Linked DNA regions of Homo sapiens: all the other regions are linked to region 1. The links come from fine-mapping of genetic effects on gene expression. A gene starts in region 1. Each other region holds a variant in brackets. All regions are shown on one strand. Distances are from middle to middle. Region 1 holds the start of CHST2 (carbohydrate sulfotransferase 2). Region 2 overlaps SLC9A9 (solute carrier family 9 member A9). Region 3 has its middle 94 kb from the start of SLC9A9-AS1. Region 4 overlaps SLC9A9 (solute carrier family 9 member A9). Region 5 overlaps SLC9A9 (solute carrier family 9 member A9).

The links. PIP is the estimated chance that this variant, and not a neighbour inherited with it, causes the effect.
Region 2: its variant is fine-mapped to the expression of CHST2 in fibroblasts (GTEx, PIP 0.96).
Region 3: its variant is fine-mapped to the expression of CHST2 in whole blood (TOPMed, PIP 0.97).
Region 4: its variant is fine-mapped to the expression of CHST2 in whole blood (INTERVAL, PIP 0.93).
Region 5: its variant is fine-mapped to the expression of CHST2 in whole blood (TOPMed, PIP above 0.99).

The regions. Positions count from the first base shown.
Region 1 is chr3:143,115,978-143,122,544 of GRCh38, forward strand. CHST2 (carbohydrate sulfotransferase 2) reads left to right here and starts at 3,794. Exons shown (of 2, transcript NM_004267.5): 1 at 3,794-4,564; 2 at 4,667-6,567. The coding sequence starts at 4,840. The coding sequence ends at 6,432. RefSeq lists enhancers at 2,850-3,351, 3,027-3,156, 3,352-3,851, 4,137-4,186, 4,510-5,151 and 1 more and silencers at 3,617-3,906, 4,397-4,446, 4,477-4,526, 4,577-4,656, 4,717-4,916 and 1 more.
Region 2 is chr3:143,299,656-143,306,222 of GRCh38, forward strand. The region is part of intron 14 of SLC9A9 (solute carrier family 9 member A9); the gene reads right to left. Among named protein-coding and RNA genes, the nearest start is that of SLC9A9-AS1, 39 kb to the right of the region's middle. The variant G/C (reference allele first, on the strand shown) is at 3,359.
Region 3 is chr3:143,244,789-143,251,355 of GRCh38, forward strand. No RefSeq gene overlaps it. Among named protein-coding and RNA genes, the nearest start is that of SLC9A9-AS1, 94 kb to the right of the region's middle. The variant AGT/A (reference allele first, on the strand shown) is at 3,145.
Region 4 is chr3:143,397,951-143,404,517 of GRCh38, forward strand. All of the region lies in intron 12 of SLC9A9 (solute carrier family 9 member A9), which reads right to left. Among named protein-coding and RNA genes, the nearest start is that of SLC9A9-AS1, 59 kb to the left of the region's middle. The variant A/G (reference allele first, on the strand shown) is at 3,445.
Region 5 is chr3:143,598,017-143,604,583 of GRCh38, forward strand. The region is part of intron 6 of SLC9A9 (solute carrier family 9 member A9); the gene reads right to left. Among named protein-coding and RNA genes, the nearest start is that of SLC9A9, 250 kb to the right of the region's middle. The variant T/C (reference allele first, on the strand shown) is at 2,984.

The DNA of each region.
Region 1 (6,567 bases):
AGTGGCGCGATCTTGGCTCACTGCAACCTCTGCCTCCCGGGTTCAAGCAATTCTCCTGCCTCAGCCTCCCGAGTAGCTGGGACTACAGGTGCGCACCACCAAACCAGGCTAATTTTTGTATTTTTAGCAGAGACGGGGTTTCAGCCTGGTCTCAAACTCCTGACCTCGGGTGATCTGCCCAACTCGGCCTCCCAAAGTGCTGGGATTACAGGTGTGAGCCACCGTGCCCAACCTCTTTTTCTTTTTTTTTTTTTTGAGACTGGGTCTCACTCTGTTGCCCAGGTTGGAGTGCAGTGGCACCATTATGGCTCACTGCAGCCTTGACCTCCTGGGGTCAGGTAATTCTCCCATCTCAGTCTCCCGAGTTGCTGGGACTACAGGCATGCACTGCCACACTTGGCTAATTTTTTTGTAGTTTTTGTAGAGATGGGGTTTTGCCATGTTGCCCAGGTTGGTCTCAAGCTCCTAGGCTCAAGTGATATGCCCACCTCAGCCTCCCAAAGTGTTGGGATTACAGGCATGAGCCACCGTGCCCGGCCATAAGTAGTCTTGTATCTTTTTGAGATTGTTAAAGCAAGTTGTTTTTCCTTCCTGTTAGAACTTTATCATTTCATCTCAGTTTCTAAACTAAGTAGAGCGGTTACTCTTGGAGGTTTTTGGGCTGTGTAATGGGTTCATGCATATTCATTATATTAAAACATAGGACATTTAAAAGGGCCACTTGGACTAACAATGGCAGCATATCTTAAATCAAGGATTATGAGTAACCTGAATCTATAATCTCAAGTTCTATTGAAAATGCATATTTGTTCAAAATATGAGGGAGTGAATCTATCTTGGTGCCCAGGGGCAAACATTTTCCAAAGGTGAATCTTCTAGGATTCACACAGATAGGCCCAAATGGGAACTGTTCAGGTAACCCAGCCTTGCATCTTTCCCCAGTTCAGACTCTGGAAGAAAGTCCTTGAAGATCTCTGGACATTTGTCCAGGATTAAGCAAAAGCCACAGCAAGTTTCTTTCACTCGCATCAGTGTGAAGAGACCACCAAACAGGCTTTGTGTGAGCAATAAAGCTTTTTAATCACCTGGGTGCAGGCGGGCTGAGTCCGAAAAGAGAGTCAGTGAAGGGAGATAGGCGTGGGGCCGTTTTATAGGATTTGGGCAGGTAAAGGAAAATTACAGTCAAAGGGGGTTGTTCTCTGGTGGGCAGGTGTGGAGGGGGGGATCACAAGGTGCTCAGTGGGGGAGCTTTTTGAGCCAGGATGAGCCAGGAGAAGGAATTTCACAAGGTAATGTCATCAGTTAAGGCAGGACCTGCCATTTTCACTTCTTTTGTAGTGGAATGTCATCAGTTAAGGCAAGGACCAGCCATCTGGATGTGTACATGCAGGTCACAGGGGATATGATGGCTTAGCTTTGGCTCAGAGGCCTGACAGTTTCCAATAGAACATAACAGGCAGCAGAGAAGACAGAGACTGAAAGAGCATCCTGGGGGAGATGGAATTGTGACAAACTAAACCAGTGAGCCGAAATTAAGGCTAGCCCTGTGGCATGACTGGCTCTTGTGCAAGTGACATTATTATGTGACATATTATATGTCTGGGTCATTACTATGCTAAAATAAGTAGATTAAAATGAAAGGAATTTCCAAACAAATGCGGGAAGGAAGGCATTATGAAGTTTTCAGATGTCATTAGCTATAACAAAGTTCAGAATTAATCATGACACCATGCAAAATGGGAAAAATTTGCAAGCAAGGAGAGGGTGGAGATGCCAGAACCCGTAAATTTATGCCAGCTGAGCACTGTGGGGGCACCTGGCAAATGGATTTACTATTTTGCCAACACCAGTAAAGTGTTACAAAATTGCAAACGGAATTATTTCTATGCAAACAATTGTTTTTAAAAAGGGTCCCTACATCGACTAATGCAATTCAGTTTTTTTCTGGGTAAGCACAAAGCCAGAAACTAAATGAAAAATATTAGAAATTATTTTTCTTGGAATCATGTTGAATATTAAAATTGAGATTTACTTTCCTCCCCAATTCCCTCTCTCTCCCATCAGTCTTTTCATGCACCAATGTCATTTTAGTTTTCGTGGTAAAAGAGGTGGTGAAAAAGGGGCAGGGGCATTTGAGAGAGTAGGCGAAGGGAGGCTGGGGATTCCAGAAAAGGAAAAGATGGGGAGTCGCTCAATTAAACTCTACCACCTTCATCTGTTAACAGGGATTCTTGCCTGTCTCGACCCACTTCCAGAGGCAATGCCATATTATTTGAGAAAGCTGGATATAAAATTTGAGCTCTGCTGTCCTTGTCCCAATCCCCCTCCCCAGGAGAAAAAATAAGCTGAACTGTACTCGTGACATTATGGGTTTTTCTGGAAAACAAGGATAAATAAGTTTTTTGAACATTTTTCTCCCCTGAAACTAAATCCGTAAGAGAGTTAAAAACCCGTGGAAAGCGAGTTAAGTCACTTTTCAAGTCTTTGTACTCAGGGGATTCTGTAAGACTCATGGAAGAATAATGGCGCAAACAGCAATATTTTAATGTTAGAACGGTCCTCTGAAAAGTCTGCCCGAAACGCTACAAAGATAATTGTGCAGTAACTTCTAAAAACTCTACTGGGACAGGAGGCAACAAAACTCCGGATCAGCGAGAGCTCTGTTTATCCGAGGGTGCTGAGCCTCAGGCCCCACGGAGATTCCCTTTTCGGCACTTGGAGGCCTGAACTCAGGTCTAACCTTTCGTGTGCGCGCTCTGATACTCAACCACCGTTCAGTCTCCGGAGGCTGTTACAACTGTCCCCATTCTACAGATGAAGTTGAGGCTACAGCTTAGTGTTCTTGGGGAGGGAGGGAGTTGGGGGGAGAGAGAGACGCTTTTCCTCATAACCTTAAACAAAAGTACTTAAACCTAAAGCAACTGAAAAATGATTTTCTTTCAACAACGGTGTTTCCTTTGGGGTCAAGTTCTTTGATCTCATCTACAAAACCAAGAAGCGGGACAAGTATTTTTCTGCAAATTAGAACGGGGCGTTCCCCTCCCCCATCACCCCAATTCCAGAGGACGTCAATCACAGTGGACGCAGCACCGCGAGCGGAAATGCGGAGAGCATCGGGGCTCCGCATGTGGGGCACAATGAAACAAGAGCAGCCCCGGCCAGAGGTCCAGTAAAGCGGAAAGACGGTCCCGCCCGCACACCCCTCCGGAAAACTGAAGCGTCTCCTCTGACCCCCAAGGTCAGAAAGATTTATTACTTCCTTCGAGAGGGCGCAGCCACAGACCCACTAGAGAGGGCGGGCAGGGTGTCGGAAGCCAGAGAACGGCGCTCCGCGTCCTCCCACCGCTCCAGGGCGCAGAGGTGTCCTCAGTGCCCGGAGAGGTTGGCAGTGTCGGCCCCGAGGGAAGCGTGGAGCGGACGGCCGACAGGGGATTTCTGCCCAAACTTCATCACCAACTCTTTCTGAGAGCAAAAACATGGGGCCGAGTCCGGCAGCTGCACGCAGAATCCAACTCTCTGGCAGCTCTCGGCACCGACGAGCTCCAGATCCCGCGTTCGCATCCCGGCGCTTTGCGCGCAGAGCTAAGCCTTCGGACCCGTGGACTGCAGCCCCCGCGCGTCGCGGTAAAGCGGGTCGCGTCTCCAGCCCCCGAGGCGCAGCGACGGTGGGAGCCGGCTCGGCGTTGGGGGCGGGGGCGGGGCCGGCGAAGGGGGAGGGCTGCGCGGCGGAGGGGAGGAGCCGCGGCGACAGACGGCGGCGCGCACCAACCGGGCGCCGGCTGGCAGGAGCCGCGCAGAGGCTGGTCCGAGCGCGTTGCGGGCGCCCGGCGTAAGGGGAGTCGGGTAGCAGCATCCTCCTGGGCGCCGCTTTCGCGCGGCGGCGGCGGCTGCGGCGGGGTCTTTCTTTGCTTAAATACCTCGTTGGCCAGAAGCGCTGGTACCGGGGGCGGGTTGGGTCGGGTCGGGCAGTGCTGCACACCTGGGTTTCCTTGCCTAGAGCTGTGTGTTCGGGGTCCTTTGGTCCAGTCGGAGGCTGCGGAGCGGCGGGGGTTGCCTGCGCTGTCCGCCCGGGCATCCTCCCGGTGATGGAAGCAGCCGCCGCCGCCGCTGCGGGGTCGCGCTGTGCCCCATCCACCGCTGCCAGAGAGGTGGGAAAATTCGCCGCACGGAGGCCGAAAGCGAGAGGGGCTGCGCCGCTATGCCGGGAGCTGAGTCCCATATAAGCCGCCCCCAGCCATCGCCCCCAGCCGGCTTCGTTCCCCTGAGCGAGACAGGAAGCTGCGGTCCCGAGAAAGCGGAGGAGACGTCGCTGGAGCCGGGAGGCGCCGGGTTCGGCGGAGCGCGGAGCGGGGCTCTGGGCCGCGTGAAAGTTTTTCTTCCCGAGCCGCAGGGCGCCCGCTGCCCGGAAACTGCCCAGGGATAAGTCGGCCGACTCCCCAGACCCCTCGAAGGTGCGGGGACCCCCAGCGGAAGCGAGAGGGAGCGAAATCGAGGAACGAGTGACAGCCGGACAGTCCGCCGGGCGGTGATCCGGGGCCGCTCCCGGGCGCGCCCTCGGCTCCAGGTGAGCGGAGGAACCGGGCAGAACCGAGGGTGGGCGTTACTTAGGAGGAGGAGGCTGGGAGGGAGATTGGGGCGCATCCGCTCACTCCGCTTCCCCTCGCAGGTCCTACCCGGAGCCGCTGCCATGGGAGAGCCAGCCTTGGGCGCTGGGGACCAGCCGCCGCGCCCGCCTCGGAGTCGCGGCCCGAGTCCCGGCGCCAGCAGCCAGCCCGCTGCGTCCCCTTCCCGGGCTGCAGGGCTGCCTCCGCCGCGCCGCCGGCCCGGATTGTGCCTGTGATGAGCCGCAGCCCGCAGCGAGCTCTGCCCCCGGGCGCGCTCCCTCGGCTGCTCCAGGCTGCGCCTGCAGCCGCGCCGCGTGCCCTGCTCCCGCAGTGGCCCCGGCGCCCAGGACGCCGCTGGCCCGCGTCCCCTCTCGGAATGAAGGTGTTCCGTAGGAAGGCGCTGGTGTTGTGCGCGGGCTATGCACTGCTGCTGGTGCTCACTATGCTCAACCTCCTGGACTACAAGTGGCACAAGGAGCCGCTGCAGCAGTGCAACCCCGATGGGCCGCTGGGTGCCGCAGCGGGGGCAGCCGGAGGCAGCTGGGGGCGCCCAGGGCCGCCTCCGGCCGGGCCGCCCCGTGCTCATGCCCGTTTGGACCTCCGCACTCCTTACCGCCCTCCCGCTGCCGCCGTCGGGGCGGCTCCTGCAGCCGCGGCAGGGATGGCGGGGGTTGCGGCCCCTCCAGGCAATGGCACTCGGGGCACCGGGGGCGTCGGGGACAAGCGGCAGCTGGTGTACGTGTTCACCACGTGGCGCTCTGGCTCGTCGTTCTTCGGCGAGCTATTCAACCAGAATCCCGAGGTGTTCTTTCTCTACGAGCCAGTGTGGCATGTATGGCAAAAACTGTATCCGGGGGACGCCGTTTCCCTGCAGGGGGCAGCGCGGGACATGCTGAGCGCTCTTTACCGCTGCGACCTCTCTGTCTTCCAGTTGTATAGCCCCGCGGGCAGCGGGGGGCGCAACCTCACCACGCTGGGCATCTTCGGCGCAGCCACCAACAAGGTGGTGTGCTCGTCACCACTCTGCCCCGCCTACCGCAAGGAGGTCGTGGGGTTGGTGGACGACCGCGTGTGCAAGAAGTGCCCGCCACAGCGCCTGGCGCGTTTCGAGGAGGAGTGCCGCAAGTACCGCACACTAGTCATAAAGGGTGTGCGCGTCTTCGACGTGGCGGTCTTGGCGCCACTGCTGCGAGACCCGGCCCTGGACCTCAAGGTCATCCACTTGGTGCGTGATCCCCGCGCGGTGGCGAGTTCACGGATCCGCTCGCGCCACGGCCTCATCCGTGAGAGCCTACAGGTGGTGCGCAGCCGAGACCCGCGAGCTCACCGCATGCCCTTCTTGGAGGCCGCGGGCCACAAGCTTGGCGCCAAGAAGGAGGGCGTGGGCGGCCCCGCAGACTACCACGCTCTGGGCGCTATGGAGGTCATCTGCAATAGTATGGCTAAGACGCTGCAGACAGCCCTGCAGCCCCCTGACTGGCTGCAGGGCCACTACCTGGTGGTGCGGTACGAGGACCTGGTGGGAGACCCCGTCAAGACACTACGGAGAGTGTACGATTTTGTGGGACTGTTGGTGAGCCCCGAAATGGAGCAGTTTGCCCTGAACATGACCAGTGGCTCGGGCTCCTCCTCCAAGCCTTTCGTGGTATCTGCACGCAATGCCACGCAGGCCGCCAATGCCTGGCGGACCGCCCTCACCTTCCAGCAGATCAAACAGGTGGAGGAGTTTTGCTACCAGCCCATGGCCGTCCTGGGCTATGAGCGGGTCAACAGCCCTGAGGAGGTCAAAGACCTCAGCAAGACCCTGCTTCGGAAGCCCCGTCTCTAAAAGGGGTTCCCAGGAGACCTGATTCCCTGTGGTGATACCTATAAAGAGGATCGTAGTGTGTTTAAATAAACACAGTCCAGACTCAAACGGAGGAAGCCCACATATTCTATTATAGATATATAAATAATCACACAC
Region 2 (6,567 bases), 180 kb after region 1:
GATGGTCTCGATCTCCTGACCTCTTGATCCGCCTGCCTTGGCCTCCCAAAGTGCTGGGATTACAGGCGTGAGCCACCACGTCCTGCCACACATTTTTATTCCTTACAAGTTTCCAGATGATACAAAGCTCCTGGTTATGGGCCCATACTTTGGAACCACTGCTTAGTGGGAGGAGGCATGCAGGCAGTTGGGACCCCTGGGTTCTGAGCCTTATCCTGGCTTTAAAGAGCTAGATGACCTCAGGTAGGTCACTTAAACTTTAGAAGACACAGTTTCTCTTTTGTCCAACAATTGGCAAAATGTATGATTTGGAAAAAGCATAATTTAGAGCAGAGATCGCTAATCTTTTCTCTATAGTGGGTGGCCATCCCAGACTCTATGTGAGGGCTGAGGGGAACAAATGTCTTGGCACTTGTAGCCCATTTGGAATGTTTGGCACACAGGTTGAGAAAGTCTGACTGAGTGGTTAAAAGCGTGTGCTTTTAAGTCCTGGAAGCATTAGTGTAAGTCCTCACTTTGCCTCTCCAGGTGGTATTTTAGCTGTTTCACCTAGGTCTGAGCCTCAGTTTGGTCATCTGTGAAAAGGGACAGAGTATTTGCACCTCTATCATAGGGTTGTGGTGAATATCAAGAGAGAATGCATGTAGAGCACTTGACATGCATATTAATTCTTATTAGCTGTTTTTATTTCTACTTCTAAAATTCTGTGATTTGCCCTCCTGCCCATTCTGCACCTCATTGGAAGAAGCAGATAAACCTCTTCAGTGTTTGGAAATGTATAAACTTTTTTAGGGGGAGTGAGGAGTGCTTTAAAGGAGTGCTTCTCAATGTTTAAAATGCATTCAGATGCCTGGGGATGTTGTTATAATAAAATGCAGATTCTGATTCAGTAGGCCTGGGGTGGGGCCTGAGATTCTGCATTTCTAAGCAGCTCTCAGGTGATGCCTATGCTCCTGATCCACAGAGCTATGCTATGAGTAAGGCTATGCTTTGAGCAATGGCTCTTAAACTCTATTGTACATCAGAATCTTTGGAGGGAACTTTTAAAAGCCCGGAGTCTGATTTGGTACAGGGTGAGGCCTGAGCATCAGGTTTTTTAAAAGTTTCTCAGCAGCCAAGTTGGAGTACCACTCTTTAAAGCACTCTTTAGTAAAACACAGGGAAAAGTTGAATTGATTTGTGTTCCAGAAGCTGGAAGTAATTAATTTCCCTTCAAATAGGTCCCCTTTTCCCTAGGAGATTTGCAGATTTGCACTGAACTATGGCCAAAATAAGAACCTTTTAAACCTTTATTTTAAAGGCAAAAACCTGTTTAACATCTGCATTCAGGAAGCTTTGTGGTCCAGTAGCTCAGAAATAGGCCCAGGAGAAACAGCATTCAGCCCCTAATCCTCACCACTACCACCTTCACCATGACCTTGGGAAATCTTTTCATGTGTATGTTTCCATATTTTCTCATTTGCAAAACTTGGCTAATCCTGCAGAACGGCCACAGGATGTGTGTATGGTCAGATGCAGCTTTAAAATCACTCCTGCTGCCCATCTCCCAAATTGTTCTGATTTGCTTACTAAATTTTGACATTTGCGCAAAATGCATACTTTGTAAGTCTTGGAAGTTGGTAATATTCAAACTATAGTCTTCTATCTCTCTCCCTCTTTTAATAGTACCAACTGCTTCCTCTTCTATTCACACATAGTTTAAGTTTAATGCACCCCAGAGCTGCAGAGAAATCAGCAAGAGGGCGGAAATGATTTTTTAAAAGCTGTGGCATGAAGATTGGCCTTGCAGGATTAGCCTTTTTCTTGGCCCTCTAGTGGAAAAGTCCACCTATACTTGAGGGTGGAGGTCATGCAGACAAAAAGCCTTCAGTAGGCAAGAGTAGAATGGAATAGCTGGGTGTTAGGGCCATCCTCTGCAGAAGATGAGACAGACGCATTCTCCAGCAGCAGTCCTTAAATGTTGGTGTGTATCAGAATCACCTGGGGATCTAGTGGAGCCCACAGTGACTCAGGCCTTTGAAGTAGTATAGGGCACAGTCCCTGTGTTTTTGCAGCTTCCCCTAGTGATTCTGACACTGACCAAAGTGTGAGAACCACTGTCCTAGAGTGTTCCGCTTTCCCTTGGTGTTTTTCAGTTAGTGTCTTCCCAACCACATTTCTAAGCCCACCCAAAGCTGAAAAGCTTTCTTTTTCTGGTGTGCAAAATACTAGTTGTATATGTTAATTTTCAAGCCACTCTTAATGTCAGTGGAGGTGTTTTTTATGAAACCAGGAGGGGCCAACCCTTGCAGAACTGCAGAGTGGAAATAAAAGAGGTTCAGAATCCTCATTATCTCAACTTGTCCTCCTTCACCCTAGGAAGAGTGAGAGGGTTGGGGAGAGAGGTGTTGCTAGCTGCTGGCCTGGTATATCTTACCTGGCACCTCTGCTAGGGGCTTTAAGACAGTGTTGTCCCACCTTTGTCACAGCGGGCCAGGAATCTTTTGCAACTCTGGATTGTGATGCAGAGGATGAGGAGCACGTTGCCTTGAGCATTAAAGCTATGGTGGGTGGGGGATGCTGGAGGCATCAGCCCCCATTTCCTCTGGATGATTGCCCTAGTATATACAGGCAATAGGCTTATACATCTTTTCTTCACTAGCACTCAGCATACTGCCCAGAATACAGTAGGTGCTTAATGAATGCTTGTCTAAAAAGATGGAAAATCGGGTAGCAGAGAAGAACCAAAAGATGCCAGAAAATAGAAAGAAAAAAACATTGAAGGTGAAAATGAGGTGTTTGTATTAATAAATATTAAGAGGAATGAATTAAAGGGCTGAAAAAGCCCAAGAAAGGAGATGCAGGAAAGGCTGGGAGTCCTGAATGAGGTTTGTGTGGAGTGGCGGGGAGGAGGAGAGAGCCCCTGAAACAGCCAGATAAGAAGGAAAAATAGCAGGAGGGAAGGAAATAAGAGCAGTGATGGAGGGACAGAGGAAAGCAGTAAAGAGCCAGGAAGATGGCGAGAGGGAGAGCTGGCAGAAAGGACAGATCCTCCAACCAGCCAGCAGGTTTGGTCTTATTCCTTACTGGGAACAGACAGAATGACTGCGTTTGACGAGGAGTGACTCAGGCTCAAGACAGGCAGAACTGGAGGATAAAGCCAGATGGGTACAAGTGAAGTGGGTCACTGTCAAGAATCATCACGTTTTCTGGAATTCGATGTTTTCAAATTGCATAATCCTCCTTGTTCTCAATTATCCTCCACAAGAGTGTGGAGTCCCTCCCACGTTACAAGTCCATCTCAGTTAAGCCCCAGACATGCACTTCTAACACCACGGAGGGCTTCTTGGCAGCCTTCCCTGCCCGCCCTCTCCACATC[G/C]TGCCCTTCCCCTGCAGAGGGACAACTGGCTCTCCAGGCATTTCCCTTCCGGACTTCCAGTGTGACACACACGCTCTGGCTGCTTTCCTGTCCCCAAAGACTCTTACTCCTCCAGGGCCACTGCCAGCCTAGTCACAGCCTTTGTACAAATTAGAGAGGCCCACCTGGATCATGGGCAGATGAGAACAAGGCACAGTCTGAGACTCAAAGAAGTAGCTGTGTGTTTGTGTTGGGGCTGGGGAGGGGTGTGTAGAGGAGTGTTCAGGGAAAGTTTCAAATAGAAAGTGATATCTGAACTGAGTTTCCAAAGGGGAACAAATGTTTTTCCTGTTCCAGGTGGGTTTTTTTCTTTTTCTTTTCTTTTTTTTTTTTTGAGGGAAGGAGGGAAGGAGGCAAGGCCTCTTGGGGGCTGGAACAGCATGTGCAAAGGAGCAGAGGTGTGAAACAGCATGCTATCCAATATTGCTGGTGTGTTCTTGCATGAGAGGCAGCAAGAGGAGGACTAAGTGATGAGAATGAGGTTAGACTAGGTAGGAAGGGCCAGGTGTCTGGTTTTAAGCAAGGGAAAGACACAGTGAGACTTGCATTTGAGGATGATTACTTTGGAAAGATATTATTTGCTTTTTACATATGAGCATACTAAACCTCAGAGAGGTATTTATAAGTGACCTGCTTCATGTGACACACTTAATAGCGGAACTAGAACTTGACTCCACCTTGTGCTAAACCAGGGTCTCCTTACCTACACTTCAGGTCTGGATGACCTCTGAGATTTCCCTTGCAAAACTTGCCAGGCCCATTTGACTCCTCCCAAAAGCCAAAAAAGACTTAGATTCAGGCCGGCAGAGGCACTGCCCTTGGTCCCCTAAAAAGATGACTTAAAACATCTGTTTTCTCCATTTCTTAACAGAGGAACTTTATTCATTCCAGGTTAGTCTTTAGAAAGCAAAACCAAAATACTCCACTGGACATTTACTGGCACAGATTTCCAGAAAACATATATATACTGAATGGGGGAAAGAGGATGAAGAGGTCTCTTAGACCTTTGTGGGAAGATGGCAACTAGAGTCACTTCTTAGTCACCCACTGGAATGGTGGATAAGTCAAATTGTATCCATTGTTTTGGGTCTCTTCCTGCCACATAACTTCATAATAGGTCTGCTTATGATAAAAATGCAATTATTTCAGTATTTCTCCTTTTTCTGCCTCTCATACATAGGTGAGATTTCTCCTAGATAGATGGCCTCAGGGAGAAGAGAGGTGAAAAGAGCCATTAAAATCCAAACTCTGGTTGTCTGAGCCATCCAAGAAACACCCACGTTAATGGCTGTGCCTAGGAGGCGCATATGTTTGACTCCAGAAGCAACAAACATTCTGGTTAGACATGGGATGTATTCCCCTGTTAAGACAAGGAACTGAGAGAGGAATCCAAAGCCTCTTGATAAGTTTGAGTTTTACAAGAGAGGCACTTTGGAATAAGAGGGGATGTTATTGCCTTGTTCAGACATGGCTTCATCTTGGCAGCATTCAGGCCTTGGGTTAAGAACTTGGTTTCGAGTTGACAGACTTGATAAAAGTCCAGCCATGGCTGGCTCATAAACGAGACACCCAAGATCTATCTTCAGAAAAGCCAATATATTTCTATTATCACTGCTGATAAGGCTGATTCTCTTTGAAGTTTAATAATGACTCTTCCAAAAATGTTCCCTCAGACATTCAAAATCCATCTTGTATTAGTTTTCCTAAAGGCTGGTTTAACACCCTCCCATTTCCTATTACGACTTAAGTCCAGTGGTATTAAATGCTTCAGTCTTGACACATGGCTCTGTTTACCTGCAAGCCCAGGTGATGAGCACCACCACCCTTAGGGCTCAGCACCCCTATACACTTTTCTGCAGCCTAGCTCCTCCTGCTGGTGTTTATAACTCAGGGTCAACAATTAATTTGGGTCTATGAATAATAACTCTGGAGAGTACTTTTATATTCTGATATCTGAACGTGAACCAGATATCAACATTATTATTAATTTCTGGGATTGAGAAAATGATTCCCTTCCATCTACTAAGGGAGTGATAAGGCAAAATCACAACTTCTATATCAATATCTGTTTGCTCAAGAATCTTAAATGCCAACTGATATGGGGCATCTGGGTAGGCTGAGAAAGGGAGGGTTGAGGGCAACTTTTCGAGAAGCTGTATTAAGCATTTCTTCGTTATGTTCTAGCAGGTGACTCGTGTTCCCTCCTCTTAACCCCCTCACTGAATCGCAGTCACTTGGTTAGATCAGCTGCTGCTGATGGGAATGGACATGCTGAGTGCTAAGCCCTTGATGTTCGCTACCACATTCATTCTCCTTGACAGTGATAGAAGGTAGATGATACCGTTTCATAGCTGAGGAACAGGCACAGAGAAGGAAATGTCCCAGAGTCACACAGTTCATAAGTGGTGGCAACTAGGACTTGAGGATTTGAACTAGGTCTCTCTGACCTTAAAGTCCCAAAGGCAATATTGTTGCTTTGTTAAAAATTCACAACCACTGGGGTTTCAACGTCTTTATACAGGGATGCTGTGCTGGAAGTGAGTTGACAGGAAGAGAGAGTCTACAGAAGAGGCTGCCTATGAAAACACAAATACTATCATGTGGAATGGTCTCAAGGAAGTCTTTTGGCAGATTTGACAGATCTGTTTAATGAAGATCAATTCTATTTAAAGCCCCTCACCAAAACTAACTGCCCATCACCTCATTAAAAAAGAAATGACTGAAGATAACAAGGGGTGTGTCTTTGGCCAGAAGTGGGCTGGCTGGAAACACGGCTTGAGTTACAGAACTGTCTCCTCAGCTTCTTTCCTGGCTTGTCTCAATTTCTCAGCTGTCAAGTGATGGAAAAGAATGCTTGCTATTCATCAAATTTGTATTTATTTGCCAATGGACAAAACGGTCTAACAATTTCCTTGCGGGATATTCTAATTGACAGTTTAAGCAGATTATGAACATTTGATTTTTTCCCCCTTGTATGACCTGAAAAATCATAAAAATGGAATTTCTTTAAAAAAAAAACCCTCTAAAATGTGAGACTGACAAATATGAACATTATTCTCCTTATCGTTCTAATCTAACCTTTCTTCCTGGACTGGTACAATGCTAATGCACCATCAGGGAGGCAGTGGGGAACATAATGGGGGCACTGGACAGGAAAGCAGAGGTTTGTT
Region 3 (6,567 bases), 130 kb after region 1:
CTCAGATCCTCGGGAAGGAACCAGCTTGCCTACACCTGGGCTTTAGGTCAGTGAGACTGATTTTGGACTTCTGACTCCTAGCACTGTAAGGTAATAAACTTGTGTTGTTTAAGTACACAGCACACAAGGTAATAAACTTGTGTTGTTTAAGTACACAACACAAGTTTATTACCTTGTAGTAATTTGTTACAGTAGCCATAGGAAACTGAAACAATGTTTCAGACCAAAGCTTAGGTGCTGGAGGAATTTTTTTCCTCCAGCAAATGCCTTCTGCAACCACCTGCCGCACAGTGTTTTAATTACACATTTGTGAAGACATACAGCTAACTCCCCTTGTTTCAGGTGGATGGACCTCATGCTTCTCTCTGGCTCTAAGGAGGGAGATAATAACTTTTGGTTTGCGTGCATCCTCAGAAATCCTTCCCTTTACTTACAAGGCCTTTACTCTCCTTTTGCTACTTGAGTTGTGCTAGTCACCACTTCCCCGACCACAGCAGGTGCAGGTAAAAACTGTCCACTTGCTTGTTCACTGGGTTTTACTGTGACAGAAGGGTTCTCATCAGTTGATGAATTCAACGTTAACCATTTAATTCACACTTACATGTTGCAATGTGAAGATATCCATAGAAGGATAGCCAATGGGTCACTGAGTGTCTTGAAGGGGGGACAAATTTATCAGAGGGCTGCCTCAGCCGGACAGGAGGGTGACTTGACTTGGAATGTGACTTGGGTATTGGAGCCAATTAAACTCAGAAGAGACTGATTATGCTGCATTTTATGTCTACAATTGGACATATTTAATGCAAGTGACTAACATGAATACTTGCCGTTTGGGAGCCTTCTTCTCTTTAGTAGGGGAAGAAGAATTATTGGAAGGTTTCTTAGTAGCTATGAAGTCAGGGCAAAGGGAAGTAGTAATATAGAAGACAGTCTTAGAGATATTTAACTCAGGACAGCTGTTTTCAGATGGAGGCACTCTTTTTTAAAAAATGAAATGTTTAGTGAAGACCTGTATGTGGGAGTTATCAAGGGAGAGCTGCTCTGGGTGCTGCAGGGGTGGGAGTTCCAGAACGGCCACAGGGTTCCTCCTCCTCACATGCAGTGGCCTCTGAGTGGCCTGATGGTTCAGTCCTGCACCATGGCGGAATAGACGTCCTTGGTGTTATGGAGCTGGACAGGCCCTGCTGACTGTGGGCTCTTTGGGCTTCCCTCTTTGTGTTCCAGGCTACCCGCTCCCCTTTGTGTTCCAGAGTCTGTTCTTAAACTGGGTACAGTGAAATTGATTCAGATTTATTTTGCTAAATTACAATCACATTTGAGTTTTGTTTCTCTGAAATTACACCCTGGCCCCCTTGATTGGAGTTTTCAACATTCCCAATCTTTTCAGTCACACGTTTACAATCTTTTGGTTTATTTCCACCGATGGCTGAACTCATGCATTATGCATGGGTGTTGCTGGTGGTGTCTCAGAGGGAAAATTCATTTCTGAGTGTTTTCTGGGTACCACAGTCATTGCCATGTTTTATGCACATGTGTGGTGATGGTCCCCATTGGGGGCGATGCCTACTCTCCTAACAGGAAAACCACCCATCAGCCTAGCAAGAATGGGGGGGCGGGGTGGGGGACAGAGAAAACATGTTTCATGTTTCACTTTTTCCCCAAATTCCTGAATGAGGAGGGATTCTAAGTGTTGAAATTAGATAGTGTCAGAATCAAACTCAGCTTCAAAACTTGAGAAACTCAAGTTGTGATTCTCTGTTCTGTGGCAGTGCAAAATCCTCACGTTTCTCACAAACCTATATGAGAAATACGATCTGAACGTTCTGGTACAACTCAACTGACAATGAGTACCAGCGTCTATCTTCCATGCTTGCACTGAGTTCTGCTTGACCTCATACCCATGTTCTTTACTCCAATCAGTTGCTATTTCAGCTATAGTTGGTTGTGACTTCTTTCTTGTAATTGTGTTTAATGGAAAATGATGTTGAAGCAATAATTTTCTTTTTGCCAAGTGTCCCTCAGGGGCTGCCCGTGTATTACAGCTTCTGGTCTCCCTCTTTGCTCCTTCTTGCTTCTGCCCATGACCAGCTCTTCCCATACCTGGTTCAGAATTCCTATGAATGGTGGAAGAGGAACCACCTGTGTCCCAGAGGAGGAACAGTTAGGCCGGCACACACCTATTTGTGTGTGTGTGTGTGTGTGTGTGTGTGTGTGTGCGTGCGTGCACGCATGCATGCATACTTTGGTTACATTCCATATGGTTTAAACTGTTGTCCTGTCTCCCAGGGAATCAATATTTATTCAGAGACCCTCAGGCCTACCCCTCTCCCCACAGAGAGCTCTCTGCAATCTTATGCAGCTATGCTACCTGCCTTCAGCACTTGAACTTGACCTGCTAATGCTGCCCTCCAGAATATCAGCCCAGCATGGGAGATGCATCAATGGGCTAATTACATACCATAGAGGAAAGTTTACCCCGCAGAGCAGGAACTCTTTTGAGGTTAAAGCCACCGTAAGTGCTTGTGAAATGCTGACGCCTGGAGAGAAAGAGCTAATAATTCCCCTGTCATTTCCAGGCCACCAGAGAAAGCCAAATCTAGCTAGTGTTAGAGGGAGGAGCTGTCATTGTAACAAGTGTGATGACTAGAGGTCATCTTAATTGAGCTGCTAAATGGAGTTGTATTTTTTTTTCCTTTTTAATGTAGAAGGGTCACTGTTTTTATGGCCGTACTTGTTTCATCTTTCTTATAGCTAGCTTGGCTTATTGGCACAGTTGAGTGTTGTGGACTGAAAATTATTAGGAGTATTTTTTTTTTACCTTCAAGTGGAAAGCTGCCTGTACTTCTTCCTAGGCTATCTGTTAAAGGTACTTAGTATAACGTGACTTGTGGTAGGTGAGAGAATGAATTGGATTTGCTTGTAGCTTCCTGGCATGTGTTTCTCAATGTTAGCGCTATATGAGCTACCTACCAGGAATTTGGTATGCCTGTAGACCACTATTATCAAGGAAAAAAGGATTCACTACTACTTCATCGTAAAATTGAAACTGCATTTAAAATGCAAACCATAATAGTGTTGTGCCAGTAAGAAACATGATACAGTTGATGATCTTTCACCGATATGTCCATGCCCTGTTTGGTGGAG[AGT/A]GAGAGCCACAGATGAGTTTTTCTATCTGGTCCATTGCTATTCCTAGTTTATACTTCCCTAAATTTGAAAATCTTAAGTCGTAATTATATCTTTGGTAATGAAGGGACATGGAGGATGGCCCTGTCAGATTGTTCTGAGTATCTGAAAAGTGCATGACCTCCAGATTCTAGAGGACTTTCTATAGTCTTGGTGCCCACCAGCCCTGACTGTCCTACTGTAGAAATCTGGATGTTTCAACAAGGAAGGTAATGGTGAATGGATCCCTCATTTATTCTTTGGTTGTATTTATAACTTTTCTTCCAGTTCTATCATAACATTTAGATGTGGCTTTGAAATATGCTCATTAATAAACCATATATTTCTCTCTCTCAGAAGACAAGAAAATAGTTTTAGAGAATAGCCACTTCCAGGGATGGAGTTGTCTGAAATTTGTTTTTCAAAACTCCAGATGTCTTATCCCCGACGTTAAAAATATGGTATCTCAGCTCTTGAAGTGATAGGTTCAGGACACCGAATGTAAACTGTTGTATGTAACGTGAGCAATGCAGTCGAAATAATTAGCTTTTAAAAAAATGACCTCTTGGCATCCAGTGTCATGAAGTATAAAGTTATGTCTTATCACCCGCTTAAACTGTGAGCCCCTTTCCCCTTGACATTTAGATCATTTTGGTGAGTCAATGCCCAGAAGATCTTCACATGGCATGCTGAAAAACTCTACACTCAGGGGCCACGATTTTGTGTGATAAGCAACTTTAATGTTAAATCAAGATCATGGCTTAAGATGCCATCTACAAGCCAATGATTCCCATGAAAAGAAAATTTCTGTTGTAGCCTTCTGGTCCCAAGGAGGCTGAGAGATGGAGCAGGGAAGAGGAGCACTCGTCCCCATTGAGATGGCCTCAGGGGACCCAGCCTAGATCACAGAACTCCAAGTGACACACAGACACATGAGCTAAATAAATTCTTACTGTTCGTGTTGCTGAGATTTGGTAATTGTTATGTAGTTGACCCAGATACCTTATTTCTATTACGAACTCTGGAGTCTGTTTTCATGCAGCAGCCGGAATGAGCCTTTTAGTCATATTTTTCATTTACTTATTGCCCCCCGTGATTGGCTGAAATTGGTTCTCACTTCACTATGAATAAAAGCAAGGACTTTACCAGAACCTACCTGAACTGCCCCTTCCCCCTACTGGCTTCCACTCTGACCTCATCCTTCACAGCTCTCCGCACTGCATGCTCTGCTCTGGCCATGCTCTTTCCTTGCTGTCCTTGAATGTTCCAGACAAGTCCAGACACATCTCCATGGTTCATTCTCTCATCTTTAAGTCTTTGCTCAAATGCCATCTTCTCATAGAGGTCTAAACTGATTGTCTTGTTTCAAATACTAACATCCATCCTACTTCCCATCCTATATTTTCTTACACTGCTCTATCCCCCCAACCCCACTGTGGTGCTATCACTTGGTAATATACCATATAACTTACTTTATTAGTCTGTTTTCACACTGCTATAAAGAACTACTGGAGACTGGGTAATTTATGAAGAAAAGAGGTTTAGTTAGCTCATGGTTCTGCAGGCTTAACAGGAAGCATGGCTGGGGGGCTGCAGGAAACTGACAATCACGGTGGAAGGCGAAGGCAAAGCAAGTGTGTCTTGCCATGGCCGCAGGAATGGCAGCGGGTGGGGTGGGATGGGATGAGACCCCTGCCCCTTCACACTTTTAAATTATCAGATTTCCTGAGAACTCACTGTCATGAAACCAGCATGGGGAAAACTGCCCCCATGATTCAGTCACCTCCCACCAGGTCCTTCCCTTGACATATGGGGATTATAATTCGAGATGAAATTTGGGTGGGAACACAGAGCAAAACCATATCACTTAGCTACATCATTGTTAAAGTCTGTCATCTTCTGCTAGAATGTAATCTTTATGTGGGCAGGAACAGTGCCTGGCATATTGTAGGCACTTATTAAATATACCTCTTGACCTTTATTTAGTCAATAAATATTGGTGAACACTGAGGTTCTCTCTGACTAAAGCAGGGTGTGGAAACACATTTTCATTTGCCCAGCAAAGACCTTCCTGGCCACCCTAATAGTATTTTGTCAGGATGTTCCCAACGCATCTTTCCTGGTCTGTCTCACCAGCACAGGGCAATCATCTTCAAAATGGAAAGCCTTTTCTTCACGCCTGTAATCCCAGCACTTTGGGAGGCCAAGGTGGGCAGATCACCAAAGGTCAGGAGTTCAAGACCCGCCTGGCCAATATGGTGAAACCCCATCTCTACTAAAAATACAAAAATTAGCCAGGTGTGGTGGTACATGCCTGTAGTCCCAGCTACTTGGGAGGCTGAGGCAGAAGAAGGTTGCAGGGAGGTGGAGGTTGCAGGCAGCCGAGATCTTGCCACTGTACTCTGGCCTGGGCAACAGAGTGAGACTCTGTCTCAAAAACAAAACAAAACAAAGCCTTTTCTGTAGCAAGGTAATATGGTTTGGCTCTGTCCCCACCCAAATCTTAACAGGAATTGTATCTCCCAGAATTCCCATGTGTTGTTGGAGGGACTCAGGGGGAGGTAATTGAATCACAGGGACCGGTCTTTCCCATGCTATTCTTGTGGTAGTGAATAAGTCTTATGAAATCTGATGGGTTTATCAGGGGTTTCTGCTTTTGCTTCTTTCTTATTTTCTCTTGCTGCTGCCATGTAAGAAGTGCCTCGTGCCTCCCGCCATGATTCTGAGGTATCCCCAGCCATGTGGAACTGTAAGTCCAATTAAACCTCTTTTTTCTTGCCAGTCTCGGGTATGTCTTTATCAGCAGCATGGAAATGGACTAATACACAAGGGCTTTCAGTAACAAAAGACAAAATGTTATTGTGCATTTTTACTTCATTTATTTATCTCACATAAGCTAAGAGCTGATTTATACTCATTGGTGGTTTTGTCCAACTGAAAAGTGAAATACTAACTTGCAAACAAACATGATCAAAAAGGCTTTTCAGCTTGAAAATTGTGTCCTGGAGTTCACTTTTGTTTCCCCCTCTAAGCATAATCTTTTAACTGGTTCAATAGACTTTTGGGCAAAATTCTAGCTTGGCCCATTTTTGCTGTTATACAACTTTGAATAATGTTCCTATGGCTTATGCTCTTCAACTGTGGGCCAAATTTGTCAATTTATATTGGAAAGTATATTAGTTCATTCTCACACTGCTATAAAGAATACCTGAGACTTGGTAATTTACAAAGAAAAGAGGTTTAATTTGCTCCTGGTTCCGCAGGCTGTACAGGAGATATGATGGATTCTGAGGAGACCTCAGGAAACTTTAAATCGTGGTGGAAGGTGAAGGGGAAGCGGGCATTTCTCACATGGCAAGAGTAGGAGGGAGAAAGAGAAGGGGGAGGTGTCGCACGCTTTTAAAC
Region 4 (6,567 bases), 280 kb after region 1:
TAACCCAGCCAAAGCAAATATTTTTGTGGAGTGATATCTTGGAAAGAATCCTTAGAAGGCAACAACAAAGTTTTGCAAAATTGATGGATAGGTACCTACAACACAATTCATTCAAAACATGAAATTCTAATGGTTGATTCTGAACTTCCCCCCCGCCACCACCTTACCACCACATTGGCTTTGACTATTCATAGGGAAAGATGGTTTCTAAGATGTTTTGAGAAGGCTTCCTCCCAAGACATGAATTTCCCTAACTGCCAATGCCTAGACTTCCTTAGCACAGGATAAAGCTCTTCATTCCTTGTTGAGGATTAGGCCTTACAAGGCAAGGACTTGGGAGAGGTAATATTTGAGCTTGTATTCACACAAGATACAAGTGAATCAGACTTATTCCTGAGAGCAGAAAGAGATGGGAACAAAAGCCTAAGGCCAACAAAGGTATCTCCACCATGAAGCGTGGAAGGCAGGCAGCGGGTGAAAAGGGAGTTGGAGACACAAAATTATCATAGTAACAGCCAATATGTAGAATCTACACTAGGTAATATTCATGTATTATATAAAACATATGGAGTTTGGGAAGAGGATCTGAAGTTATTGTAACACCATGTATTTTAGTAATTAAAAGCAAAAAGAGATTTATAACCCTTTTCTTTATATTAACCATTAAAAAGCACTTGCAATTGGTTACTTTAATAATTTTGCACCAGTAAATCTGTTGCTTCAGGCTATCTATCACCAACATCCAGCAGACAGTACAGAATTATTAACCATGTGCACTGAAAACATGGAAAAATAGCCAAAGAAGATTGTTTCACCAACACTAATATATCACTAAAATTAAAATTAAAACAGCTTTGGGATATATAACAGTTGCCAAAACTATTGTTTAAGCCCACAATTGGAAGCAGATTTGATCTACAATCTCTACAAATAACTGAAACCTTATTTTCATTTGGAGCAGTTAACACTCTGTAAGACCATATTATATTATAGACCATATTAAGACCAGATGCTATTAATAATAAATTCACAGATTTGTTGTATACACACACACACATACACACACATACATATATATGTACATGCACATATATATCTATATTTCACTTCTATTTTTACTTTTTAAGTGAAAAAACTTCTTCCCTAGTCTCAGAAGAGAATCAAGTCAAAAATACGTCTTAATAATGCATTATCTTGTTTTTTGCTAAAAATGAGTAAATATCTTAATTTTAAAAGGAAAGTTGACAGAAAGACAATGGGTAAGCTAGGAAGCTGCTACTGCATGACACATAAAAAGAGAAGAAAATAATTTTAGTTTCTTGCTGAGACGGATTAAAGTAAATCACTAGAAAAATAATGTTTTTCTCTGGTCAAATCTGTTATTCACCATTGGGCTGAAGTGCATGCTTGCGTGCATGACTATGTTAAAAAGAAATTAAATATTTAAAATTTTAAAAGGGGAAGAATTCATGGTTAACACTAGAATTATATTGAAAACTGCACCTTGATTTTGGAATCAGTGGTTTAAAATCAGGAAAGTGAAAGAAAATTGGCAACAATACTATTGGGAAGAAGTTGTCTTAGAGCAGAAGAGAAAGGCAAAGAGGAAAAGAGTAGCAAGAATATGTTGTAAAACAGGTTCTGAAATTATCATGAAGACTACGGAAAGTGCACAGCATGGAAACAGAATTAGCATCAATTTGGCGGAAAATAACATAATGAAAGTTAATTGGATGCTTGTGGCTAATGTAACACTCAGGCTGTTTTGGCCTATCATTCTAGGAGATCATGATGACAGCTTAAACAACTGTTGTATATGAACTGATATTTTTCCTGACACCACACTATCGACATCCTAAAAGCAGGGCAGGTAGACTATTTCATTCATTCTCTCCTTCACTCACTAACTCACCCACTCATTCATTCATGAAATACCAGTTGAGAATATATCAAGACCATTAGTATATGCTAGATATTGTGGTAGACATGAAAAATTTGTTACACTCATATATATCTTTAAAGTACATACGGTGAGTTTCATCAAACCTAGATGTAGTTCATGATAAGGCATACTATTACTTTATGTACATCTAAGAAGAAAAACGCTGTTAATTATATTTGTGACACCACTGATTATGAGACACATCTTGACTTCAAAAATGCTAAAGTGTGAAAAAACGTGCAGCTGGAATAAATGGATACCCACACAAAATAATAAAAATCCAGGGTTCAATAATAATGTCAAGCCATTATACATACTGGCCTCTGGATATTTCATGTATGGCTAGTATGTTATTTGCTGTCATTGGGGAAAAATTCAAAAGAGTATTTTGAAATCTTTCAAACAAAATATTCTTTTTATGCTTACAAATTAAAAGATAATTCATGCTCTACTACTCAGCCGTAAAAAAGAAAGGAATTAATGGCATCCGCAGGAACCTGGATGGAACTGGAAACTATTATTTTAAGAGAAGTAACTCAGGAATGGAAAACCAAACGTCGTATGTTCTCACTCATAAGTGGGAACTAAGCTATGAGGACAAAAAAGCATATGAATGATACATTGAACATTGGGGAGTCAGGGCAAAGGCTGGCAGGTGGGTGAGGGATAAAGACTCCAAATTGGGTCCAGTGTATACTACTCGGGTGATAGGTGCACCAAAATCTCACAAATCACCACAAAAGAACTTACTCATGTAAGCAAATACCACCTGTTTCCCAAAAACCTATGGAAATAAACAATTAAAAAAACTTTTGACTGAATTTATGCAAAAAAAAAAAAAAAAAAGGTAATTCATTCCCTTTTAAAATTCTGTGTCAAGCAACTTTTAGTCACTGGGTGGAATCAGAGCCAAGACTAGAGTTAGGCAAGGGAGACATCCTGTCTCTCAGGATCGTGCAAGTGCTGAGCATTTGTATGAGCCCGAGAGTGAGTGCTTCCTTAGATTTTGCATCCTAGGTACCTTGTTTGCCTCCCCCAGTCCTGATCGTGGGTGAAGTAACAACTTTGCAATTGTTTTTAATATTTTACCCTTGGATCTTCTGGACTGCTGACTTTTTCATTTTTCCCTCTACATCTACTCTACCCCCTTTTCTCTACATTATCCTGGGCTCTGGAATGCAGACCAATGCAGATGGCATCAATTGGGTTATCGTGCTCTTTGGTCTTGAATAGGTTTAGCCAATAGGAAGTACTGGCAGGATACTGGAAGGAGAGAGGAGAGTGAGACAGGGTATCTATTTCTTCCTTCCTGCCAGGTCACCAGGCTTGTCTGTGTTCTTCTATCAAAGCCTCAGCTCCTTAATCCCTCTCTATCTACCCCACCCAGCTACCCTCTCTGGGTTCTGGTTAATATTCCCATTTGGGTATAGGGTGGTAACTGCTCTCCATTGATTCCAGTCCTGGGGTACTGCACTATTCCTTGTTTTCTAAAACCAGCTCTT[A/G]TAATAGTTCCTTGCTAAGTTCCTTTAATTTACTCAGCTTGAATGTGCCATTGTTTTTCCTACCTGGCATCAGACTAGTGTAGAAAGCTATTCACATTAGTAAGCATGCAGCAGTAAAAAGGTTTCACTTAAACTGGAAACTAAGTTTTCAGGGACTTGAAATTTCTTAAGAAATCCATAAATATAATAAATCTTAAACATAGCTTTGTTTCCAGCCTTAATGTTAGAATTGTGTCTTTAAATGTTTCTCTAAGGTACCTGAATATTCATGTACAACTCGACATAGACTGTTCCTATTCCTAGGCTGGATCAGGTTTTCACAAGAAATTCACATACAGGTTGTGGCATCTGACAATGGCAGATGTCAGGAGTGCAGATCATATCATAAGATATAGTAGGACCTACACAGGAGGAATGAAAGTGCTCCTGAACAGAATCCACTTATGATGCCTTAAATCAAAATATGCTTTATTAAATGCTCCAACTTAAACCTATGAATTCCATACAGATGTTAAGAGTTCTCAGAAGTCTTTCTAGAAGCTGAAATTCTACCCTAGTGAGGTACATCTCACCATCTCAGATGGAGAAATCTAGATTCTACTGGCCTTCCTGATGATTACCTTGGTGAAACAGTTCATTTTCATGGTGAAAACACCAGTCTCAGAACTGTAAGTGGAAGGAAGCTCAGATGATCGCACCCTACCATGTCATTTTAAAGATAAGAACACTGAGACCCACAAAGATTAGCTAATTTGAGAGAAGTTACACTGGTAATAAGAAACAGAAGAATTAAACAGTTTTTTTAAAAAAATTTAATTTGGCATGCTGCCTACCTCAACGAATAAAAAGGAAGAAATTATAAAAATTTAAAAATCCTTTGGCATGAATAGACTTTTATGAGAAGATTTAAGTGTAGAAATTATTGGAATATACTTATTGCTCGAGATGTCCATATATAACAATGTAAAGTGAACTTGAAATCTGCAAATATTATTGCAGTGTGGTAGAATGTGGCATTTCTCAAACTCTAGCAATTTACTTAGCACCTTTGTGTTTTTTTTTTTTTTTTTTTGTAGAACTGAAAGATACTTTCTTTAATGTTTTTAACTTTTCTGTCAGTTTTTGCTTCATGTATCCTGGGACCTTGTTGTTGAGTGCATCTATGTTTATAATGGTTATATATTCCAAATGAATTAACCCTTTCATTATTATAAAGTGTTCCTTTTCATCTCTCCATATGTCATAAGTCTATTTGTCTGATATTAGTATACTACTCCAGATCTCTTGTGGTTATTGTTTGCATGGTGTATCTTTTCCCATCCCCTTTCCCTTCAGGATATTTGTATCTTTGAATCTAGGTGAAATTAGTTTTTTTTTTTTTCAAATTCAGTCTGACAGTGTCTGCCTTTTGATTACATTGTTTAGTTCATTCACATTTAATGTTATTGATATAGTTGGATTTACTTCTTCCATTTTGCTATTTGTATCCTATGTTTATTTGTTGATTTTAAAAAATCATATTTTTTGTTATTTTCTTAGTGGTTGCTCTAGGTGTTACAATATACATCTCAACTTCTTAGACTCTGCTTTGGATTTATAATAACTCAATTCCAGTAAGATGTAGAACATTTGCTCCACTCTTACTTACTGAACCAGAAATAAGATTTAACAACATCCTTTGTGCTGTCATATATATTACATCTATATATGTTATAAACACAATTCGGTGTTGCTACTTTATATCAATCTTGCATCTTTTTAAAAAATTAAGAGTGAAAAAAGTATATTTACAAAGTTTTTCTATTAATCTTATTTACAACTTCTGTTACTCTTTATTTCTTCCTGTGGATTTGAGTTACTGTCTCATGCCACTTCCTTATTCCACTATAGCTTCCTTTCCTCACTCCTCATTTGTGCTATTATTGTCAAATACATATCTTTATATCCTATAGACACAATTGAATTTTATATTGTTTTTAGTTTTAAAAAGAAAGGAGATACAATATGTAATTATGCTGTTTTTTATAGTTAATACGTAGTTACCTTTGCCGGCACTTTTTTTTTTCCACGTGGATTTGAATTGCAGTCTTGTGTCATTTCCTTTCATTAAAAAAAACTTCCTTAGTAATTATTGTCAGGCAGGTATGCTAACAACAAATTCAGTCTTTATTTGGAAATGTGACTTTGTTTTCCTTTCTGAAAGATAGTTTTGCTGGGTATTGGCTTCTTGCTGATAGTTTTTTAAGCATTTTATGTTATCTCACTGCTTTGTGGACTTCATTAATTCTGATAAGAAGTCAGATATTCCTATTATTGGAGTTCTCTTGTGTGTGATGAATAACTTCTCTTATTGCACCCAAGATTTTCACTTTGTCTTTCAACACTTTGAGTATAATGTGTCTTGATATGGCTTTCGTTTTCCCTACTTGTAATTCACTGAACTTCTTGAAGGTGTGGATTGATTTTTAAAAATCATATTTGGGAGGTTTTCAGCCATTATTCCTTGGATTATTTTTTTCTGCCCTTTCTCTTCTCCTTCCAAAACTTCCATTACACACATGTTGGTGTTCCAAATGGTATCTCAGAGGTCTCTAATTATCCGCTCATTTTTTCTTCTTATTTTGTTCTTCTGATTATATACTTTCTAATGATGTATCATCAAGTTCACTGACTATTTCTTTTTCTAGCTCAAATATATAGTTGGGCCCTTTTAGGAAATTTTTCATTTGTTATTATACTTTCACCTCAAGAATTTTTAATTTTTTGTATAATTTTTCTTTTTTCTTTTTTTTTTTTGGAGACAGAGTCTCACTCTGTCACCCAGGCTAGAGCGCAGTGGCGTGATCTGAGCTCACTGCAACTTCTGCCTCCTGGGTTTGAGTGATTCTCCTGCCTCAGCCTCCCGAGTAGCTGGGATTACAGGTGCCTGCCACCACACCTAATTTTTTTGTATTTTTAGTAGAGACAGGTTCTCACCATGTTGGCTAGGCTGGTCTCAAACTCCTGACCTCAGGTGATCTGCCTGCCTCAGCCTCCCATTTGATAAATTAGCATTATCATTCTTTTACTTCTTTAAACATGGCTTTTGTTAGTTCTTTAAACATATTTCTAATAGCTGCTTTG
Region 5 (6,567 bases), 480 kb after region 1:
CTGCAGACAAAAGGTTCTGTACCCACTTACCAATTCCCTGAGCTCTCCAGTCCCTGGTAAATTGCTTTTGAACACATTCTCAACTTTTATCTTTTTTTTTTTAAATGAAAATGTTAGTGGGTAAAATCCAGTATAAGGGACACATTATTCTGAGAGCATAGCTTTCCCTACCGATACCAGCGTCATTTCCACTGCTCTGTAATAAGTAGCTGCAGCTGTTGCCATGGCGATTTTCATTTTTAAAAACTGTATCCATACAAAGACAGGCAACGCAGCTGTTTCCATGAAGCATCACGAAATAAGCCCAGATGTAATGGCACTCCTGTCTTTTTCCAGAATTAAGGAGATGTGTCTAAAAGTCCAGGTAGAGCCAAAGGATGGGGCTGTAGCTGTGCCTTGAGAGGAGCCTCCTGCTTTCACTTGAAGCTCAGGACACTAATGGAGGGTAAATTAGTGGCGCTAGTGAGCGTTCAATTTCTACCCAGTTTTCTCAGGCAGATTCTTTGTACCAGTGAATCACTATTTACACTGTGATTATAACTTCCTCCAATAGCCTCCTTTGAAAAAGACACCGTCTTCCTCCAAATCCGCACATGCTACCCCGGAACATTACAAGAACAAGCACTGCTGATGGGGCTCAGTACTTGTTTTTCTGAAGTCCCGTGGCCTCCTACCTACATGTTATTAAAATGCTGCAAGCAAGCAAGTCAACACAAGTTTTTAAAATCATTCTCCACTTTCCAGTTAGAGGAAGCGTGCTGCCTGCTGCTGCCCTTGTCCTTTAATATGGAGGGAGTTTGGTTTTCTCTGTGTGTGGTCTGGTAGGCACCAATAAGGACAAAAAGATACCTGTCAAGCTCACCATTTCCTGAACAATGGTATTATCTTTCTCAGGGAACAGGAATCTTTTGTTTGTTTCTATTTTTGTTTTGAGGCCATTGATTTGCTAGCCAAGCCAGATGCTGAAAATTATGTAAGTAGAACCCACAGGTCGCCTCAATCCCTCATTCTAAACAAGATTCAAATGAGTTACCCCCTCACTGACCTGGAGAGCTATTTCTTCTGTCACATAGGTGCAGTGCACCAGATGGGACTGTGGCAGAAGAATAGTTAGGTGAAGAAAGCCTACCGTGTGCCTCATGGGGAAAGGATTTTAAAAGAAATTATATTTCCTGTCCATAGTCCTCCATCTCATATAACTATTTAACTCGTAAAAAACATAATTATGTTTCTGAATTTCTTTATATTTTGCCAATCAGTTACAGCTATTTTGTTGTTACTAAGAGCATTGAATTATAAACAGTATAAAACGCCAAATGCTCAGGAATCTAATAATAAAAGGACTTTTCCTGGAAAGCATAAGTAGTTCTTTTCTTCTATAAGGAGAGCCTCTGTTTGCAAAGAAATACGGCTGTGCTTAACATCTGAGTAGTCAGCAATCTTAGTGGTGGTGGTTGCTATTAATTGTAGTTGAGATGTGACCTACACATAATCCACAGAAGCCGTGGGGCTTTATGAGCACAACAATTGCCTGTGTTTGATTCTACCTTGCCAGGGATACTCTCCAAGATCCTGCAAAATATCATTTCTCTCCTTTGCACTATTGAGATGCAAATGGCGCTACTGGCTGACCACCGACAAGCTTTATGAGCAATAAGGAATCCAAATTCCTTCAAGGCATCCTTAAATATTAAAATGTCATACATAAACAAAATATGTAATGAACTTCAAATAATTACAACAAACAAAAATCTTATGCGTCCCTCAAGACCTGTAAGAAATCAAAGGGTCTCAGAATATTTCATCTGTCTTATCATCGAAGTAAGATATCAATGCCTCTTTCCATTTAAGAAAAATCCCAGAAACCAAATCAAAACAAAAAATTCTGGAGAATGCACTTGTCCAACATAAAGCAACTAAACAGTCACTGTCCCGATTATTGTTCTCTGGCGTTTTACCTACCAGCCCGGTACTGCTTCCAGATGTTTTGCTACCTTTTTTTTTTAATTAAAAAATTTTTTTTATAATTATACTTTAAGTTCTGGGATATATGTGCAGAATGTGCAGGTTTGTTACATAGGCATACATGTGACATGGTGGTTTGCTGCACCCATCAACCCATCATCTACATTAGGTATTTCTCCAAATGCTATTCCTCCCCTAGCCTCCAACCCCTCAACAGGCCCCGGTGTGTGATGTTCCCCTCCCTGTATCCATGTGTTCTCTTTGTTCAACTCCCACCTATGAGTGAGAACATGCGGTGTTTGGTTTTCCGTTCCTGTGTTAGTTTATTGAGAATGATGGTTTCCCATCAACGATAGATTAGATAAAGAAAATGTGGCACATATACACCATGGAATACTATACAGCCATAAGAAAGGATGTTTTGCTATCTTAAAGAGAAGCAAGAACTGAAAGAAATTCCCCTGGATGGACAAGAATTCTATAAGTGTGTGAAAAATACAACAAGTAGAACTCATTAATTTATCAGATTTTAATATTAACACATGGGTAAGTTGAGCTTTAAAGCTAATAACTCTACTATTTCTAAATATCAATGATCTGCAGAGATTGGTGACATTCTTATTCCCTACATAGAATTGAGATCACCCTCCCAAAACGCAATAAATCAGAGAGGTTGATCAGCATGAAAATGTCTATGTTGGTCAGCAACCATGGCTAAGGAAAGAATTAGGAAATTATTTCATAGCTATCATGAGGAGCTAAAATAATGAAATATAGGAGATATAGACTGTTAAATTAACCATAAGGCTGAAAACATTTTCTCCACAAATGTTTTCAACTACTTCAAATCCTCTTTTTCACTGTGCCCAAGGCTAAGTGAGAGGAGACCCACTGGGCTGCCTCTCTCACTCCTGGCAGGGCTTGCTGGAGATCAGAAGAATAATGCAGGGAGGAAGTTCTGTGTGATTTATTTCAACTGAGCATAACAAAGTGGTGAATGGGGATGTAAGCGGAAATG[T/C]TGCAAGTGTATTTGTGTAAGCACACATTTCATTTCTCTTAGACATGGGAAGTTGAGGGGAGAAACAGTCTCAATAATGACAGTGGGGGGTTATTTTTCAAAATGTCTTGTCTTTGATGTAATTCTGATATTAATGTTTCTATTGAGATTCATGTTTATTCATTCAATGAATATTTACTGAGTACCTCCTGACAGCCTGGCCCTATTGTAGGTGCTGGAGATATGCAAGTGAATATGACATGGAAGGACTCAGGGAGATAGGCAATAAATATACAAATTAACAATCAGTCTTTTGAGATGGGAAATCATTTGTAACCCTCCCCACCCCCAAATTTAAAATAATTCAGAATTTAGAATTACAAAGGGACTTCAACAATATCTCATCTGCATTTCTTCATATTCCCATGAAATAAATTTTGTGGTAAGCTTCATTTTGTAGAATTTGGAATTGAAATTCAGTCAAGTTGAATGACTTGGCGAAATCCATTTCAACAGTCAATGGGGGAGCCAGCGTTTCTATTCTGCAGAACCTCTGCTCTTTCACTGTATCACACACCACCTCCACAGATTGTTTTTAACATTTGTGCTTCTATGTGCAGTTTCAAAATCTGGTATTAAACCACTTTCCAAATTCATGTATTTAACCCTCCCACCTCTGGTGCCAACTCAGCGCTGCAGATTTCAAATAAATCATTGCTTTCAAATTAAGTTTACTATAAAGAATCTATTGGAAGGTAATTTGATAAGTGGCTACATCAGATGAAATGTGAACATGACTTTGCATGATCACTGCCCCTTCTATAGGCTTTTCTGGAGGAAACACCTTCACTGGTCTCGAGACACTCTCACTTTGCTACATGGCATTGTGCCATGCCCCCCACTGTTCCAACATCCCCCCTCTACCCTCACTGTTCCTGCAGTACCCCTTGCTGCCATCATCACTGCACTCACACTCCCCTGGCTCAGACTTGCTCTGCAGTTCCTGGAGAAATTCTACTTTGTTGCCTTTCCAGCCTATATACAGCAGTATTCCCATGTCCTTTTTTGTTTAAATTCTTAGCCAATGTCTTTCTCCAAGTTTTAAAAACTAATTGTTCCTACAGGTTTTATTTGTCCTTAATATTATCATGTAAGAAATTAACTTTGGTGTTGTGTCATTTATTGTCTCAAATCAGCCAAGAGTTAGAGGCGAGCAGGGCTGTTTGACCACATTGTTTTGGCATGTCCAGGGCTTGTTCACTATGGGACCAGCAGCACGTAGCCCAGTCTGGAGCAAAGAGCCTCCTTCCTGTGCATGCTCCTGACATCAGCTAAGGTTCTGGCTCAGGCCCAAGAACTAGGTCAACACATTTCAAGATCTCAACGTGAGATCTGGGTGAACGTCCACCTCTTAAGATGTTCTCTCCAGTGAGGAAGGCCAGCTGGAACAGGTCAATTGCTCGAAACATTCACTAGCTGCCTTTACAAGGACTTAGTTAATTTTAACAATTCTTTTACCCTCTAGACATTTTTAATGCTTAAATATCTTAATTTAACTGTTTAATAATAGTTATTGTACTTTAATAAATATTTCATTTATTTTAAATGTTTTAATAATTTCTTTTAAAAGACTAGGAAATATAGACACAAATGGGGCAATTCTATAGTCTAAAATTATAGAGGTTAACTCTGTTTTTCCTGGTTGAATATGGTATCTGATGCTTAGCTCTGTATTATTGGGTAAGTTGCTGAAGCTACCCGTACAATAGGGATAATGATAGCACTTGACTTCCCCAAAGAAACCCCTTTAACCTTGGAAAACGATTCCCTTCATTCAGTTTCAACTCTGTCCCTGAGGGCCATTTAAGATGCAGCCCTCCTAAAAATATAGCATTTGAAATGGCATTTCCAAGATTTGTGGATAAGAATGCTGATGACCACATGTGAGCATAATGGCGCTTTAAAGCCAAGATTTCCTCTTCCATAGTCTATGCACAGAAATCTGCAGCCTCAAGCTCTTAAATTCTTGAACACATTCAGGTTTTAAGGAAACTGTTGACTTTATCAATGTAGAGATGGGAAAGAAATATGCAAACTAGGCCTGCACCTTTTCATACCATTTGGTCCAGGTACATTTGTCTCCTGGGATTGGAATTATATACATTTCTCACTGATCAATAACATAAATATTGACTTTCACCCATAGAAGTCATCTCTGAATGGTCTTCATCCAATACTTAAAAGTGCTCACATCTGAGATTCTAGAAGGACCATCTAAAGTATGTGAGATCCAAGCATGCTTCCAGGTTACTGTGGTAGGCAGCCTTCAAGATGGCCCTCAATGATCCCTGACACTTGGTATTCACGCCCTCTACATTCCTCTCTCACATTGCACTAGGGTGGTCTGTGTGACCAACAGAATTGGCTGGAAGTGACAGTATGTCAGTTCTGAGATTAGATTGAATCCATTTTGTTGCTCTTTCATTCTCTCACAATATTTCTCTTGAATTATTCTCTCTGGGGAAAGCAAACTCTTGTGCAGCCCTGTAGAGAAGTCTGTGGCAAGAAACTGAAGTTCTCACTCAACAGCCATATGAGCAAGCTTGGAAGTGGATCCTTTGGTCCTGGTCAAGTCTTCAGAGGCTATAATCCTGGCCAACAGCTTGTCTGCAACCTCATGAGAGACCATAACTAGAACCAGTCAGCCTAAAGAGATCTTTAGAAACTGTGAGATCATAAATGTTTGCTATATTAGGCAGCAAAGTTGTGATGTAATTTGTTACACAGAAATGGACAACCGTTACTTAGGCTCTACCTTTGTTTCATAGCAGATCACCAGAAACAACCTGACGTGAGTATTTTAGCAGTGGCTTTATTCAGTTAGGGGTCACTGTTTTACTTTTTGCTTTTACAGAGGGGTGACTTTTAGAAGGTGCATTTGAAGAATTCTTCTGTGTCTTTTGTAAGACTATAATCAAGAACATTGTCTATGACGTCACTTCATGCTTTATTTCTCACAGAATTCGATAACAGAAAAAAACACATTGTTGATGACTTGAGTATTTTCTTTAACTGACCTGCAGAATCATAAAAACTGACGTGCTTTCCTTTTCACTCTGTTGCCAGGATGCTCTGAATAAAATTTAGTTCTAAATTAAGGTCTATTTTGTGCCAGATACACATTTTTTTTAAGAAAGTGATACAGTTTTTTACTTTTAGTTATCCTTTTTGAAATAAATATTCCTTAGCCCTGTAAGCCCACTCAAGTTCTTTATGGAAGTAATTAATTCAAGGTACTGTGAATTTGTTGATTCCCTGTTACATGCCAAGCAGGGTGCGAAGCTCTGGAAACACATAGATGAATAAGACAAGAAGTAAGGTTTTCTCTTATGGAGCTCAAAACCTAGTGATGAAGAGCTATGTGGAGAACCAAGCATAAAACTAGGTGACAGACACAGTCTTCATAGAGTAAATGTAGCAAGCTGGGAGTGCTAGTGAGAGAAGATGACTCCTGAGTTGGGATGGCAACCAGAACTGGGCCTGATGAAGAAGGAGAGGCTGGCATTAAGGCTCAGAGAAAATAATAGTTGTCTAGGATGTGGTGA